2 linked regions of the Homo sapiens genome follow. The protein of the gene in region 2 purifies or fractionates together with the protein of the main gene of each other region. This does not show direct contact. Each region holds a gene or a part of one and is shown on either strand. Other genes may lie near its edges.

Region 1 (3,982 bases), on a different chromosome or scaffold from region 2:
AGATAATTTTTTGTATTTTTAGCAGAGATGGGGTTTTGCCATGTGGCCTGGGCTGGCCTCAAACTCCTGAGCTCAGGCAATCTGCCTGCCTCTGCCTCCCAAAGTGCTAGGACTACAGGTGTGAGCCACCACGCTTGGCCTTGAAATGATTTTCTAATGAGTCTTCAGGGCGGCTGATATGGTTTGGCTGTGTCCCCACCCAAATTATTTTAGCTCCCATAATTCCCATGTGTTGTGGGAGGGACCCAGTGGGAGATAATTGAATCATGGAGGCAGTTTCCCTCATACTGTTCTCATGAGAGTGAGTAAGTCTCAAGAGATTTGAGGGTCTTATGAGGGGTTACCCTTTTGCTGGGCTCTCTCTCTCCTCTTGTCTACCACCATGTTGAGACATGCCTTTCGTCTTACACTGTGATTGTGAAGCCTCCCCAGCCACGTGGAACTGTGAGTACATTAAACCACTTTCTTTCGTTAATTGCACAGTCTCAGTTATGTTTTTATCAGCAGCATGAAAACAGACTAATACGACTGCAATACTGTTGTGTTGTTAGGTTTTGTTCTAGTCTGTTTGGGAAGTGCGGTGGTAGAAATAGGAAAAGCATAGAGAAAGAATAACAAGAATATATAGTCCAGGAAAGCTTTTACCGGGAGAGCCTTTTATACCATGTTCCTGGAATATAGGGTTTCCAACAACTCAATTAATGTACAGACTCACTACGCTTTTTAAAATGTCTTTTATTGGTTGTACATTTTCTTATGAGATCAACACACCATTTTCTTTCAAGAACACTTTGCTCCTGAATACTTAATGTTACTTGTCCCAGCTATGAAAGCCATAGCAAGCACTTTGACGGAAAAAGGTGGTTGGGTGTTTTTTTTGCCATTATCACTGTCTTCTCTATCGTTAAACTGTTGTTTGAGTCAGTTTGTAGATTGACACAACATTGAACACAACACACACGGTGTGAAGTTTTACACGCATATACACACATCTGGAGACCAGTTACAGTGTCTGCAGCTTGTTCCTTTCTCCTCAGCAGTATGAAACTGAAGAATATCCTGAGATAGGAAGTCAACGTGAAAGTTCCTCATTAAAAGAGGAGGTCAAGCTTGATTTAATCTCCCAATTTCATTTTCTTTTTGAGGTGGTCAGAGGGGACCCAGAACGGTAGCCAGATGAACCGTGGAACAACCACATGGTTTAATATCTCAGCTGTTTCCTTGGTCAAAAACACAGATTCACAGAAATATTTCATGGCACATCAGAAACCTACTTTTTAAAAATATGATCTTGGATTAGAAAGGAGGGAAATGAAAAGGTTGTTTTTTACTAGATGTGATGGGAAATCCCACCACAGAATGACCTACATACTTGTAAGGCAAAATTACCCTCACCTTTGGCAATTATTATACTTCCTTGTCTACTGACTGATAGAAGTCAATCATCCAGTCTTGTCCCCCATCAATGTTATTTGCATGAAAAGATGAATTTCTCAAGAATAGGGACCCAGGACAGGTGGCTTCTCCAAATGTTAAAAAGAAACATAATTTCTTTAAAGCTACATTATCCCTCAATTCAGTATATTTCTGGGAACACTAACAAAACTTAACCTATGTTAACACCAATGCTTATATCTACTGCAAGTCCTGCATACTGGCTATTTCCTTGGCTTTGGGATTTGGAGATAACATCATTAATAATGATAAACAATAGTTCAAATGAAAAAAAAAATGCACACAACCTGGGTGACAGGAAAGCTAGCCTAAAATGAAAATGTTTGGAGCCACCAAAGCCAACAGGCAAAGAAAACAAAGGCATGCTGTCCCACAAAACAGGTATTTTAAATACAATCCTGAGGCCTTATTGAAGTTATCACTTGATGCTCATATATTTCCATATAGAAAAACACAGTTAGATATACACCCCCAACTCCTTCTTTCCTTCTTCAGCTCACAAGCAAAGAGTTCCCAAAGGCCAGAATTTAAATTTAATATTCACCTCAAGAGCATGGAAACATTCCACCCACATGCTTTACAGGTCTTTACTTTATAAACTTCTAATGAGTTTCATGCTCTACAGTTCAGCCTGCCTCATTCACAAAGAGACAATGCGGCAATCCGTAAAGAAGAGATGATTCCAACCAGAAAAAGCTGCACCTGGCAGGAAAGATGGGAGCCTCAATGAGGGAATCCACTGAATAGCATTCATTCTTTTATTTTAAACTCTCCAGAGACACTACTTTGAAGTGCTGGAGGTGGGTTTTGAAAGACAGGGGTGCATAGGACCTCTCCGATATCCTTTCAGAATATTTCAGGTACCAAGAAGAGGTAGCAAGCTCCTAACTAGCTTATGGAACTACCTCATTCTAGCATCAGGGCATTTTCCACTTGCCCAAAGGCTCTCTTTGCAATAAACATGGTTTGAAAATAACTTTAGGGTGCAACAGGCAAACAATCAATCATATATACAAATAACATGTGTCTATCACAAAATTTACAGAAGGTAAGAAAACGTGTTGTTGTGTTTCCTTACAAAGTCCATATTAATAAACGGAAGCAGCATTTTCAGCTATGAAACTGAAGCACAAAGAAAGCTGAAGAAATCCACCTCTTTTATTAAAATTCTTGTAAAGTTCAATTCCATAAAGAAATTCTAGTGTCTCATCAAGATTTTCACAAAATATATAGAAAACTGTTCATGTATTTAAATAATGTGAAACTACATTCCTAACACCTCTTTCAGCTTTAAATGACTCAATTTGATGATTCAGTATCATAGGAAGTATGTCCTAGTTGTGTAAGCAAATTACACAAAAAAATACTTTTCCTCTAAAAATACCTATTATTCTATTAAAACATCATTTCAGTTCATATAGAAAATCAGTCCACTCAGAAAATAAATTTGAGACTAAAGAATAAATCAAACACAGAGGTAATACAGGAGATAAACACAATTTTCTTAATCAAACCTCCTCAAGTGGCTTTTATGCAGATTGGCCAAGAACACTATAAACTGCTGCCCAATGTAAATTTTTGGCACATATAGTTTTCTAAAACAGTTGCTGTGAAACCCCAGCTATTAAATTTGCTCTAGTGGCAAACAGAACACTGTCAGAATTCACCAGACTCTTTATGTGTGTGTACAAGGCACCTGATATGACTCAGCTGGTGTTTAAGCATTCCCTTGTGTGCAGTTCATGACAGATACACCACCATAGCTTCCAACTTCTAAAGGCTGTACCAGGTTTCCATTACCCTTCTCCACCTACAACACCTTTGCAAAAGGCAGCAAGGGGTAGCTCTGTTAGCTTGAGTCTCAGACCGTACCCCTGTCTGTGTCAACATTGTCCAAAGGATTTGCTTTTTTCTGATAGGTCAATGAACAAAAACGGTAACTCCTGCCTCTGCAAACCTAGAGATGCAAAAATTCCACTGCATATGAAGAGCCCAGTCACTCCACGCCTTGTCACTGAGACGGTGAACAAAGATCAGGTCATTCTCAACCACTTTAGGAAAATGTCGCATGTAAGGATCTATAATGCATGGCTGTCATACAACAATTCCTTGCATTTTTCTTTCAAAATGATTTATGCTCAATTAAAATTAAATGACCCTGTCTTCTGGCCACCTATCTCCCTATCTCTGTGAGCATACTCAGTACGGCAAAAGCCAGGGACTCACAGCCGTGGTTGGCTATAAAATTTCCCATATTTGAGACTGTTTAAAGTCCTAAAGTGGTCATTTAATCCAACGTTCCCAAGTTTTTAATGGCCACAGAGACTTCCAGTTAAAAGGAACAATACTAGAAGCCAGATATTCTGACTGGAGGTTGACAGAGGTTCAGATAGGCAGAGTTCACCTTCATCACACTCTTTTTCCCTTCTGTTCACAAGAGACCCTCAGGGGCACCACTGAATATGGTCTGAAAACCACAGCTGTACCTCGCTCTTATCTCCCCAAGTATTGAACATACAACAGGACA
Region 2 (3,813 bases):
AAAAAAAAGAGATCACAAAAGCTCTCTAAGTAGAGTTGAAACCCCTCACTAGGCTTAAGGTGGGGGATCAGGCACTCCAACTCTCCCTTGGGGAGGTAAGGGAATGGAGCTCCCAACACAGCTTTCTTAAAATTGGCTTCTCCACAAAAATTTTCCCTTTTCCCTGTACTCTAACCACCTCTGATCTGAGAACATTTTTTGGATCATTCACCTTGTAAATGCTGCATTTGGTCTGTTTTAGTATACGGCAACTATTGTGCCTTGCTGGAAACCTTAATTTTAATATCTTGTTATGTACACATACAAAGACCGTTAAACTAAAAGGTAGCCTATGTGCTCTGTCAGTGAGTGGAACAGGACTTTAGAAGGTGAGTTCATTCATTCATTCATTCATTCATTTGCTCATTCAGCAAACACCACATTCAAGTGCCAAGCACCAAGCACCAAGCTCAAGGTCTAGCACAGGCTTGTTGTCCTGGAGTCCATGAGTCCCTGGGGATTTCCTAGGTGGGCTTGTAGGTCTGTGACTCACATCCCCCCGGTTACTGTAGCACATTTCAGGAAGGGTTTTCAGAAGTTGGGGGGCTTGGGTTGTCCTTGAAGTTATTTCAAGCAGAGGAGATTTGGGCACTTAGGTTTGGAGGTGGGAAGGCTTGGTATCTTTATGGGACAGTTGAATGGACAGGGTAGGAGGTGTTCATGGAGGGAAGAAGGGGCATATGGGAGGTTAGGTTGCATCTGGATTGTGCAGGGCCTTGGATGCTGGTGCAGGAGTTTGGGCTCTTGGCTCTCGCTGTGTCAATCTCTCCTGGGTGGCAGTAGGGAGTCTCGCTCTATGAGATGAGGTAGGGGCCAAGATCCTCTTTAGGGTCTAGAGGGAGAATGTCTATTTGGGCTTTAGAGGGGAAAACCCTTCTCTTCCAGAAATGGCATCCCCAATCCTCTGTCCCTCCTGGTGCTTAGCTCTAGACAACAAAAGGAAATGCCTTCAGATTTCTGGGATGGGCACCTCCTGGGAAGATAATGAGCTCTGAAACCCCTGGCCTGGACCAGGGAGGCTTGGCCTGAGGTCTTGGAACAGAGTGCTGGCTCCTTCTCTCTGCAGGAAACTACAGTTGCCTCTCCAGTTATCCTCCGTGTGGATCCTAAGGGCTACTACTTATACTGGACGTATCAAAGTAAGGTGAGAAAACCCTTGTGTGCCATGGCCCTGGACTCCTGCTTATCATTGAGGCCAGACAGCCCCCTGGCTGCACCAAGGTGGAGGCATGGATGCTGGGGAGTACAGAATGGCCTGGAAGGGTGGCTCCAGAGGCTCCCCTGTAGGCAGGGGCTCTTTGCTCTGGAAAGGAGGATGCAGTCACTCCAACCTGTGGCTACCCAAATGTTCCATCCTTAGCATCCCTTGGGGAGAGAGAGAGACAGGCGAAAGCACTGCTGCTGAAGGCTGATGCTCTGCCTGTGGCTGTGGGTTGACTTGGGGCTCTGGGAGATGAGAGATAGGCCCCAGCCTCTGGGCAGGAGGACGGGAAGGGGAAGCTGGGAAGGGTCCAGGATGGTGGAGGAGACACTGCAGGCTCCAGCTCCCTGCCAGGGAGGAATGGACAGAGGGAAAGGGAGGAGGATCTGCATGAATAGAGAGAACCTGGGCCATAGGAAGGGAAGTTTGGGTCCAGCTGGCCCTGGGCAGCCTGGCATCTAGAGAGAGGTGTTGGCCAAGATTTGAAGGGTGTGGAAGCTCCCTTCTCCCTATTGCTCATTCTTGACCTGGACTTTTTGTCCCACATCCCTTCTTTGCTCCCACCGGGATCCGCACCCTGCCCCCAGGAGATGGAGTTTCTGGATATCACCAGCATCCGGGATACTCGCTTTGGGAAGTTTGCCAAGATGCCCAAGGTAGGTGTGTCCAGTAGCAGCCCAGGCTCAAGCACAGCTACTAGCTCCATGGGGCAAGGGCAGGGGTCCCTGTGCGGGTGGGAAGCCTGACTTCTGAAGCACGGGGAATGGTTCCTTGGCTGGGCAGCAAGGACCGTGGCTGGAAGCCAAGGAAGGGGAGCGGCAGCTCCTGGGCTCGCCTGGGCTCTGAGCTTCAGAACTGCGCACAGTGAGCTGAGATGGCAGGGATCTGGGAGGAGGGGTCACCTCCTGCCCCTAAAGCACCCCAGTCTGTCTGGGAGGGGTGGCTTACACCCCCACCCCCGGACTAGTTTGCCTATATTTGCCTAATGCTGGTAGGAAAATTGGAGGAAGGGATTGGTGGGAAGCGGGGTTTCCTGAGACTGGGAGCTAAGAATCTATCTTCAAACAAAAGTGGCAACCAACACACACAGGACTCCCAGGCCGGCCTCCCCGCCTGCCCGCCATCTTGGCTAACCTTTTCCTCAGGGCCTCTCCTTCCCATCCCAGCCGCTGGAGTCAGGGACAGGAAGATGCTAAGGCCTGTGGTTCCTGGGATGGGGATGGGGTTCTGCCCAGTGGGCCATAGCCCAAGTGGCTGAGGGGAGGGCCAGAGAGAGCCACACTGGGCAGGGAGGGAGCACACCTCCATCCTAACCATACCACCACGTGCTGCAGAGCCAGAAGCTCCGGGACGTCTTCAACATGGACTTTCCTGATAACAGTTTCCTGCTGAAGACACTCACGGTGGTGTCCGGCCCGGACATGGTGGACCTCACCTTCCACAACTTCGTCTCCTACAAGGAGAACGTGGGCAAGGTGTGCCAGGGAGCACTGGGCCTGGGTCTGGGCCCCTGGGATAGCCTGGACTTCCTGAGAGACACAGGCCTGGGCGGGGGTGCTCAGGAGCCTGACCGCTGCTCTCTGTGGTCCTGCAGGCCTGGGCTGAGGACGTACTGGCCCTAGTCAAACATCCGCTGACGGCCAACGCCTCCCGCAGCACCTTCCTGGACAAGATGTAAGTGCCCTCTGCCTGGCCTGAGCCCTGGTGCTGAGCATGCCAGCCCTGGGCCTTGACGGGCTGCTTTCTGCCCCCAGCCTTGTGAAGCTCAAGATGCAGCTCAACTCTGAAGGGAAGATTCCGGTGAAGAAGTGAGCCCCCCAACCCCTCCCCAGGCTTCCAGGGGCTCCCCAAAGCCTTTCTTTCTCAGGCCTGACTCCTCTCTGTACCTGGTACCTTTCTCTGCCCCTTCAGCTTTTTCCAGATGTTTCCTGCTGACCGCAAGCGGGTGGAAGCTGCTCTCAGTGCCTGCCACCTCCCCAAAGGCAAAGTGAGTGGATCTGCACCCCTGCCCATCCCCCAGCATTCTTGTCCCCACCAGAAAGCAACTTGGCCAGGAATGGTGGGTGGGGGAGCAGAGGTGACATCACAGCCCCAGCCAAGAGCCTGGAGAGCCAATCAACCCTGGAGCTGCTGGTTACTGACACTAGGCACAGGGGTGGAGCCAGGGCAAGGGAGTGAGACCCTGAGCTCCAAGCAGGTTTGTCTGTATCCCCTACCCTGGGTGGTGGGGGCGCTGGGGCTGTGGTTGATGGACTGTGTTCAGGGCAGGCAGCAGAAACGGCATGCATTCCCAGTCTAGTGTTGGGAATGGGAGCTGAGCGTGAATGTTTTCAGCCTGGAGGAGCGAGATAAGGTCGGCAGTGGCAGGCGGCAGTCTGCAGGGATCTGGAAGTCTGCAGCGTGTCGAGGGAGAGGAACTGAACCAAAGGCGGAAGCTGCCAAGATGCAGACTTCTGCTCTGTACAGAAAAGCATTTTTCCCTGTCTTTTTAGTTAAATAATTAATTTTTAATTACAAGTTGTAAGCAGGGTCACCCCATGAAGCAACTTGTGTGAATTACAAAAAGGAGCCCT

The links.
Region 1: the proteins of PLCB2 (region 2) and MAP2K6 purify together in Homo sapiens (affinity purification with western blotting, with the first as the bait; one study listed by BioGRID). This does not show direct contact.

The regions. Positions count from the first base shown.
Region 1 is NC_000017.11:69,550,599-69,554,580, reverse strand, and holds the end of MAP2K6 (dual specificity mitogen-activated protein kinase kinase 6), read right to left. Parts: 3' UTR 716-3,982; downstream 1-715. UniProt on the Homo sapiens protein: Dual specificity protein kinase which acts as an essential component of the MAP kinase signal transduction pathway.
Region 2 is NC_000015.10:40,301,371-40,305,183, reverse strand, and holds part of PLCB2 (1-phosphatidylinositol 4,5-bisphosphate phosphodiesterase beta-2), read left to right. Parts: intron 1-1,105; coding exon 1,106-1,183; intron 1,184-1,827; coding exon 1,828-1,896; intron 1,897-2,574; coding exon 2,575-2,715; intron 2,716-2,834; coding exon 2,835-2,914; intron 2,915-2,994; coding exon 2,995-3,048; intron 3,049-3,151; coding exon 3,152-3,227; intron 3,228-3,574; coding exon of another isoform or gene 3,575-3,592; exon of another isoform or gene 3,593-3,813. UniProt on the Homo sapiens protein: The production of the second messenger molecules diacylglycerol (DAG) and inositol 1,4,5-trisphosphate (IP3) is mediated by activated phosphatidylinositol-specific phospholipase C enzymes.